Linked DNA regions of Homo sapiens. The protein of the gene in region 2 interacts with the protein of the main gene of each other region in a biochemical or structural test. Each region holds a gene or a part of one and is shown on either strand. Other genes may lie near its edges.

What was found.
Region 1: the proteins of H2AC8 (region 2) and NAP1L4 form a complex in vitro, tested with the Homo sapiens proteins (one study listed by BioGRID).

What each region holds. Positions count from the first base shown.
Region 1 is NC_000011.10:2,943,631-2,947,329, forward strand, and holds the end of NAP1L4 (nucleosome assembly protein 1-like 4), read right to left. Parts: intron 2,017-3,699; coding exon of another isoform or gene 1,978-2,016; 3' UTR 807-1,977; downstream 1-806. UniProt on the Homo sapiens protein: Acts as a histone chaperone in nucleosome assembly.
Region 2 is NC_000006.12:26,212,629-26,218,187, reverse strand, and holds H2AC8 (histone H2A type 1-B/E), read right to left. Parts: upstream 1,268-5,559; 5' UTR 1,214-1,267; coding exon 821-1,213; 3' UTR 751-820; downstream 1-750. Other genes in the region: H2BC8 (histone H2B type 1-C/E/F/G/I), read left to right, coding at 1,545-1,925. UniProt on the Homo sapiens protein: Core component of nucleosome. Nucleosomes wrap and compact DNA into chromatin, limiting DNA accessibility to the cellular machineries which require DNA as a template.

The DNA.
Region 1 (3,699 bases), on a different chromosome or scaffold from region 2:
TGCCCCTTGGATTATGGGGTCTGACCCTGGGCAGACCAAGTAAGGCCAGGGTGCTGCTCACCCATGGGGCCACCCTGAGGCTGGGGAGCCTGAGACCAAGCTCCCCCAGGTACTTCACAGGATGGGGACGGAGGAACGGGTGCAGGAAGCACAGACATCAGGCTCCCCGGCCCTTGGGGGTATGCTGCAAGCATTCACTTCCCAGCCTGCACCTGCCCTTCCTGCTGCTCCCAGAGAGAAGGCAGCCCACGGGTGAGCTGGAGGCAGCAGGGCGGGGCCAGCCACGTGGGGAGCAATGAGCCAGCTCCACGGCTGCCTTCTCATGACAGCGTTTCATTCACCAGGCGGCGCTGCCAAGGCTGGGATTCCCACGGTCAGGTCAGGAAGTGCCTGTGCAGCAGGTGTTGAGTGCCTCCTCTCATTGTGGATGGAAGAGACACGGGGAAAAGCTTCAGAGAGCAAACACACCTAACATGGGCTTTATCAGGAAGTTCTCCTCTTGGAGCCTTCTGGATCTACAAAGCACAGTCCCACTAACTCTGAGAAATGATCCCCTCCTGGGGGCAGGAACAGTCTTCCCCTGGGCCCGCAGTGAAGCTGCCTGCATACAGCAGCAACTTAGGTGTAGTGGGGGGGCTACAGCAGCCTCTGCCTCAAACTGAGCTTTCAAGGCCTCAGAAGTAAACTGTACAACCGGTCTTGGAGCCACCAATACCCAGGGCTCAACAGAGCCCAACAGGTGTGCAGCACATCTGAGCCTTCCCCACCACATTCCCCTGCAAAGACCCACATGGCACAGTGCTGACTCAATGTTTCACCACTTTAATAGAATATTCTAACTATTCTGTACAAATTGAAAACACTGTATTCAGTTACAAATGTGTTCTAAGGTTAGGCCGAGCACTCTCCACAGGCCTGGTCAGTGCGGACACGGCCATCCCCGGCTGCCGGAGAGCGCCGTCACCCACTTGAAAACCCCACCCACCAGCCGCCAAGCGGTCACACCAAACCCAGGACCTTCAGACAGGATGAATGGTGGGGCCCCGCAATGGGGCTACTGAGAAAGCAGGACTTGACGCTCATACGCTCCACTGAAACGCAGGACTTCCCAGCCCAGTCCCTCAGTGGAGAAGACTGCCGAAGCCCGGCTCCGGCAGCAGGGTGGCGCCTGCGTCATGAGGACGGGCTCGCATCTTCAGCCCTGGTGGCAGGGAGCGGCGTTTCTTCCGCACAGGCCTTGCGCCTGCTAGGAAGTGGCACATCTTCCTGCTCAGGGCACCAAGGTGGTTCAGAAACGTTAAGGACGAGCCACAGCGAAAAGCCGCAGTCCTCACAGGCAAGAAGGGATAAATAAATATGAGGTGACCCGCAGCAGCTCTCACCTGGGCTGGTGTGTCACAACCCTGACCCACCCCTAAAAAAAAAAAAAAATCAAGAAGCAACATCCTAAGGAGAACAGGGCCCTACTCTACACAGCCCTTTCTGAGATGATCGGCATACAGCAGGTGATGCAGGCTGCACACTCAGCAGATTCAGCGGCTGGAAACAGCAAGTGGGTTTCTTCGGATGAAAGGGAAGAATTCAGTCCAACTGCAGGAGGGGTGGGAGAGGTTCCAGATCCTGGGAACCACATCACCAGACCTCGGCCCTTTTTGCCAAGTGACCCCCACCCCACCCTGATGTGGTCTACAGGGCCCTCCCACAGGGAAAGGCCCAGGGAAGTCCAGAGCTACAGGCACCAAGGCTGCAGAGGGTGCTGGACGAAACCTCCTATTTCTGAAATGCATTTCAGTTGCCACTGTACAAGTTAAGCAAAATAATAAGGAAAAAGGAAAAGTGAAAGTGAAAATCATGCACTTGAAAACGAGTTAGATGGAGTAAGCTCTGTCCACGGGATTGTGCTGCGGCAAGGACCGAGGCCCCGCCCACAGGCCTGGAGTCCCGACAGCCGGTCTGCCAGGCACCCGCCTCCGCTTCCTACTGCTGCTTGCATTCCGCCGGCTGGCTGGGTTCCTTCTGTCAATGAAAAAGACAAGGCTTGTAGAGAGCAAAGCCAGCTCCATTCACCAATTAGCTCCAATCAACAATGAAAGCCAAGACTGAATGAGTTCATTCTCATTGAAAAAAATGGTTACTGCAAATATACTTTTAAAAATAGTGACAAAAACAAAGCTAACTCCCCCTACCACCCTGCAGTCAAAGCAGGGTTTTTTTTTGTTTTTAAAGCTATGCCTTCAAGCATTCAAATTCATGGCATGTTCAGCAGGAGGGTTTTGGGGCTCCTTGGGGTGGTGGAGCTCCAGGGGCCTGCCCATGAAAGGGCTGGGAAGCAGCTGGAACCCCTGCCCACACAGAGCACAGTGCGCTCAACACGGGCAGCTCCATCCAGGAAGGCCACCGCGGAGGCAACCCCTCTTGGTGCCAACAGTCCCCACTTCTCAAGGGCACATCTGTCTGGGGGTAGGCTGGGCCCTTGGCGCTCATGGAAAGCACATCTCTCCTCTAGCGGGTTCCTGCTCTTTGTACTACCAGGGAGCGCCCCGGCAGATCCATCCTCTTCTGGTGGCCTGTACTGCACCAACAAATGATGAGCTGCCACTCCCAAGAGCTCCATCTGTCACTCACTCTCCTTCACTCTCCTAACAGTCTCACCAAGGGGCAATGCTATCCTTCCAGTAACGGCATCCGGGACACAAAATTCCCCTCCCAGAGGAATGGATTAACTCCAATATTATCTAACACAGAGATCTTGTACCCTTTAAACCACATCCAGCAACTCCATGAATTTGTGTGGAGGCCAACAATAGCCTAAGAAATACATCACGATCTTGCTAATGCTTCTGCGCTAGTAACTTTACGAACCTGTAACCTATGATTTCTGGCTAAGATTACAAATTGCCCTTAATCCAGCGTGCCTATGGAACCTAAGAACTTGTACTGTATGGGGCAAAAAGATCCCTGGGTTACCATAAATGATATCTTCCACAGTATAAGCTGAGGCTACAGTTCATTCTTTTGGAAATCACATTTAAGGGATGGCCGAAAAAATATGTGTAAAATATGCAAAAAACAAAATCAATAACCTTGAACCCTGGTGTCTAAGCTCCCAATCTCAGCCACCCCAGAGGCTGCCCAAAGAGCCTGGCCAAGACAAAACGAGGCTGACCAAAAACCCTCGCCATGTCAATCTGACATTCAAGGGTAGACTGAAGGTGGCCCAGTGTAGTGGCCAAGAACACTGAGCCACTGGCCTTAGGAGTGTGGGGGATGCAGGGCGCCCCGAGCAGGAGCAGTGAGGGGAGGAGTGGGACAAGCAGTGTGCCTCCACCAAGGGACTCGCCTAGAAAATGGGATGTCAGTAAAGGAGCTGTGCAGGGACGGGGAAGACTGGGGCTGGTGACAAGGTGACAGACTCCATCTTTATGTACATTTAAATTACGCAAATACTATGTCATGTCATACACAGGACTTTATAATTTATCCTACCACAGATTGAGCATCCCAAATCCCAAATCTGAGATACTCCAAAATCTGGAACCCAAGACAAAGAAAATGCTCACGGGAGGATTCCAGATTTGGAATGCTCAACCAGAAATAAATCTAAATTATCCTAAGTTGCAGAAATGATGTAATAGGTATTTTCAACCACGAGAATGTAGTATTCATCTGTCCTAAATAAAACCAATATCCTGGGTGAAG
Region 2 (5,559 bases):
GAAATCCAACAAACACAATTCTCACTAGAGGAATGTAGTCTTTTTTTTTTTTTTTTTTTTTGAGACGTAGTCTTGCTCTGTTACCCAGGCTGGAGTGCAATAGCGTGATCTCGGCTCACTGCAGCCTCTGCCTCCCGGAGTCAAGCGATTCTCCTGCCTCAGCCTCCCAAGTTGCTGGGACTACAGATGCACACCACCACGCCCGGCTACTTTTTGTATTTGTTTAGTAGAGACGGGCTTTCATTATGTTGGGCAGGCTGATTTCGAACTCCTGACCCTATGATCCGCCCTCCTTGGCCTCCCAAAGTGTTGGGATTACAGGCATGAGCCACTGAGCCCAGCCGGAATGCAGTCATCTTTAAAACTTAAAAAGCCCGCCCTGAAATGCTAATGGGCAGCTATCCTTCTTTGTTCTCTCGTTTCTGTATTAATATTTCACCCTTTTCTGACAAGTGCACATGAATAAACAGCCTGTGTATTAATGATAAATTTGTATACACAGCATGGACCTATACACAAAATAACGCAGTGAAACCTTGGTGTCACAACCTCGGTTTCTATTCTTGTATACCTTTATAAACGCATTTTTACTGCAAAGAAACACCAGTAAGATAAATTAGTGCATGAAATGTGAGCAAGGATTTCAATAAAGAACTGACCAGTAACGTCAGAAGCGTTCGTTAAAAATTAGGACAGTGAACATTGAGATTTCAGGCATCGTATGTGTATTCCAGCACTTTACAGAAAAGGTGGGTGGCTCTGAAAAGAGCCTTTGGTTTCTGGGACTCGGGATCACTGACGGATTTGACTAGTAATCATTTCACTTGCCCTTGGCCTTATGGTGGCTCTCCGTCTTCTTAGGCAGCAATACGGCCTGGATGTTGGGCAGGACACCGCCCTGCGCGATGGTCACGCGACCTAGAAGCTTATTTAGCTCCTCGTCGTTGCGGATGGCTAGCTGCAGGTGGCGCGGGATGATGCGGGTCTTCTTATTGTCGCGAGCCGCGTTGCCAGCTAGCTCTAAGATCTCGGCCGTCAGATATTCCAGCACCGCTGCCAGGTACACTGGAGCGCCGGCCCCGACTCGTTCGGAGTAGTTGCCTTTGCGGAGGAGGCGGTGCACACGGCCAACTGGAAACTGAAGACCGGCCCTGGAAGAACGCGTTTTAGCTTTTGCCCGAGCTTTGCCGCCTTGCTTTCCACGTCCAGACATAGTGGCTTCCTAACAGCAGAAGAACTAACAATCCACTGAATAAAGAAAAAGAATGGGCTCGATGGAGGAATAAGAAGCTAGTTATAGTCATCGGTAGAATTGTGAAAGGCGCAATTTGATTGGTTAAAATTGTTCTTTGACGAGCCAACCAATTAGAAAGGAAATAAGGTGAAGGCTATTTTACATGTATGCGTCACTAACACATTGCCCAATCAGAGCTGGATATTTTGAATTCTTTATTTGCATGAAAGGCCTATAAAAGGAGAGACTCTAGACACGAGCTTTTATTTAAGTGCGTTCATTCTCACTGCTGTTATTGTTTTCTGACAGCATGCCTGAACCAGCTAAGTCAGCTCCTGCTCCGAAGAAGGGTTCCAAGAAGGCTGTGACCAAGGCGCAGAAGAAGGATGGCAAGAAGCGCAAGCGCAGTCGTAAGGAGAGCTACTCCGTGTATGTGTACAAGGTGCTAAAACAGGTTCACCCCGATACTGGCATCTCATCCAAGGCCATGGGCATCATGAATTCCTTCGTTAACGACATCTTCGAACGCATCGCAGGCGAGGCTTCCCGTCTGGCCCACTACAACAAGCGCTCGACCATTACCTCCAGGGAGATCCAGACCGCCGTGCGTCTGCTGCTTCCCGGAGAGCTGGCCAAGCACGCAGTGTCCGAAGGTACCAAGGCTGTCACCAAGTATACAAGCTCCAAGTAAATGTGTGCTTAGGTGCTTTAAAACTCAAAGGCTCTTTTCAGAGCCACTCAAGTCTCACATAAAGAGCTTTAATATTGAATTTCACCGTTTTCTAGGGAATAATTTTTCCGATTTTGTAATCCCAGCACTTTGGGAGGCCGAGGCGTGCGGATCGAGACCAGTTTGGCTAACGTGGTTAAATCTCGTTTCTACTAAAAATACAAATATTAGCCGGGCGTGGGGCAGTCGCGTGTCATCCCAGAGACTCGGGAGGCTGCCGCAGGAGAATCACTTAAACCCAGCAAGCAAAGGTTGCAGTGAAAAGACATGGCGCTTTTGCATTCTAGCCTGGGCGACAAAGGCGAGGCTTCGTCTCAAAAAAAATTGATCAGGAGATACTCCTGTTCTGTGTTGGCAAGATCCTGTAATCCTAGCACTTTGGGAGGTCGATGCATGAGGCTTTCTTCAGCTCAGGAGTTAACAGATTTGCCTGGGCAACATAGAACTCGTCTCTGCAAAAAAATGAAGCTAACCAGGTGTGACGGCTTGCGTCTGTACTATCATTTACTCGGTAGGCTGAGGTGGTAGGATAGCTTAAACTCTCGGGCTAGAGACTGCAGGAACATGTGAATACGCTAGTGCAATTCCAGCCTGGGCAACACTGGAAAGGGTAGGAAGAGTAGTCTTTGGGTCCCTAAAGATCACCTGATAACAAGTTTGACTTTTCTGAGCACTCTTGTGGAGTTTGTTGTGGAGGGAATACCATGGGCATTGGCAATGTAAAGTTGATCTAAAAAATCTCGTTTTCCGCCGTGCGCGGTGGCTCACGCCTCTAATCCCATCACTTTGGGAGGCCGAGACGGGCGGATCACGAGGTCAGGAGGTCGAGACCATCCTGGCTAACACTGTGAAACCCTGTCTCTACTAAAAAAATACAAACAAAATTAGCCGGGCGTGGTGGCACTCACCTGTAGTTTCAGCTACTCTGGAAGCTGAGGCTGGAGAGTCACTTGAACCCGGGAGGCGGAGGTTGCAGTGATCAGAGATCGCGCCACTGCACTCCATCCTGGGCGAAAGAGCTAGATTCCATCTCATAAAAAAAAAAAAAAAAAAAAAAAAAAAAAAATTACAGTTTTGGCTGGCTGGGCGCAGTGGCTCTCGCCTGTAATCCCAGCATTTTGGGAGGCGAGGCTGGTGGATCACTTGAGGTCAGGAGTTCAAAAACAGCCTGACCCACATGGTGAAACCCCGTATCTACTAAAAATAACAAAATTAGCCGGGCGTGGTGGCGCATGCCTATGTTACCCCAGCTACTTCGGAGACTGAGGCAGGAGAAACGCTTGAAACCGGGAGGCGGGGGTTGCAGTGAGCCAAGATCCCGCCATTTCATTCCAGCCTGGACAACAAGAACGAAACTCCGTCTCAAACATAGAAACCATTAGTTTATACTCATTAATCAAATTTCTAAAATGGGACCAAAAAAAAAAAAAAGGTCACTACTCCATAGTACTCCATGAGCAACCTCAGGTTTCTGACAACATAGTACTCCAAAGTATGGCGCCTTGACATAGTAAATATTCTAAGACATTAGTAGAACAACATAGACAAGAATGTTCGTATGACCTTCCTCTGAAGCAGGTCTTAAGACCCTCCTGGGAGTCTTGCAGAGTATGCGAGGAATCTGAACAAATAAACCTTGCTAGATTTCTCCTTGTTTATTATCCTTAGCTCATATTATTTTTGTCTTGTTATATTTCTGCATGACTCTCTTCATCAAACCTAGTGCAAACACACTCAGGTTTAAGCCCTTCTTCAGGTCCTTATTTCCTTATGTCATGTAAAACTTCATATTAAATGTGAATGTTTTTCTCTTGGCCGGGCGCGGTGGCTCACGCCGGCTCACGCCTGTAATCCCAGCACTTTGGGAGGCCGAGGCGGGCGGATCACGAGGTCAGGAGATCGAGACCATCCTGGCTAACACGGTGAAACCCCGTCTCTACTGAAAATTGAAAAAAATTAGCCGGGTGTGGTGGCGGGCACCTGTAGTCCCAGCTACTCGGGAGACTGCGGCAGGAGAATGCCATGAAGCCGGGAGGTGGAGCTTGCCGTGAGCCAAGATCGGGCAACTGCACTCCAGCATGGGCGACAGAGCAAGACTCCGTCTCAAAAATAAATAAATAAATCAAAATAAAAATAAAGTGTATATTTTTCTGTTGTTAATCTGTATTTTGTTTCAGGGCCCCAGCCAATGAACATAAGATGGGTAAAAGGAAACGCTCTTTCCTCCCCTACAACATACAGTAGGGGTGGGTGTGCATCTGTGTTCTGTGTGTTTGTCTTTGTGGAGTACAAAAGCTAGCATAACATAGAAAAGGTGTGGAGAAAAGTATTCCCAGAATGAAAATGTTTGAGAAGTGTGTTCGCTAGGGCTGCCAAAACAAACTACCAAAGACTGTGTGGCTTAAAAAAATTAATTTTGTCACAATTCTGAAGGCTACAAGTTCAAGATCAAACCAGTGAGCATGATTGATTTTTTCTGGGGCCACTCTCCTTGGGTTTTCCCCTCTCTGGTCTTCCCTGTGTGTGTGTGGGTTGTGTTTTAATATCATCTTATAAGGACAGCAGTCAGAATAGATTAGGACCTACCCTTAAAACCTCATTTTACACCTTTAAAGACCTTATCTCCAAATAGTCACATTTTCAAGTAGTTGGTATTGGACTTCAATGTTTGAATTGTGGGCTGACTTGGATTTCAGTCAGGCAATTCAGTCAATATCAAAAATTATGGTGATTAGGCTTCTAAATAGTACATGAAATAAGTATTTCACAGGCATCTGAAACTCAGCACAACCAAGACAGACCTTATGATACTCTACCTGGCTTCACTTACTCATCCAAGTTTGAAATCTAGTCCCCATTCCAGACTACTCCCTTTTCTTTTCTGCAAATATTTAAAAATATACAAACTCATTGATTTTAACTTCTAATTTTGTTAATATTGTCCATATTTTTGTTTACTGTGGCTAACAACTGGAAATACTAATGTTGAAGAGTTGGACTTTGCCTAAAACTAGGTTTTATCCCTAATGGAATATTATGCAGCTGTTAAAAAGAATGCTTTAAAAAAAACGACATAAAATATGCTCATGGCATTGTATGGGGTAAATCCAAGTTGCCAAGTAGTGTATTCTTATTTACATGATGTCACACACACACACACACACACACACACACACACACATATAGTTTTAGGAAAAAAGAGTGACTATAAGGGTCAATGCCAAGATGTTAACAGTGCTGTTACATTTTTTTTTTTGGTGCAACAGACAGCTCCTCTAAAGATAACTTTCTCTATTTGTCTCTATCCCAAACTATCAATGGTGTGGTTAAGAAATAGGAAACTCGGCCGGGCGCGGTGGCTCACGCCTGTAATCCCAGCACTTTGGGAGGCCGAGGCGGGCGGATCACGAGGTCAGGAGATCGAGACCATCCTGGCTAACACGGTGAAACCCCGTCTCTACTAAAAATACAAAAAATTAGCCGGGCGTTGTAGCGGGCGCCTGTAGTCCCAGCTACTCGGGAGGCTGAGGCAGGAGAATGGCGTGAACCCGGGAGGCGGAGCTTGCAGTGAGCCGAGATCGTGCCACTGCACTCC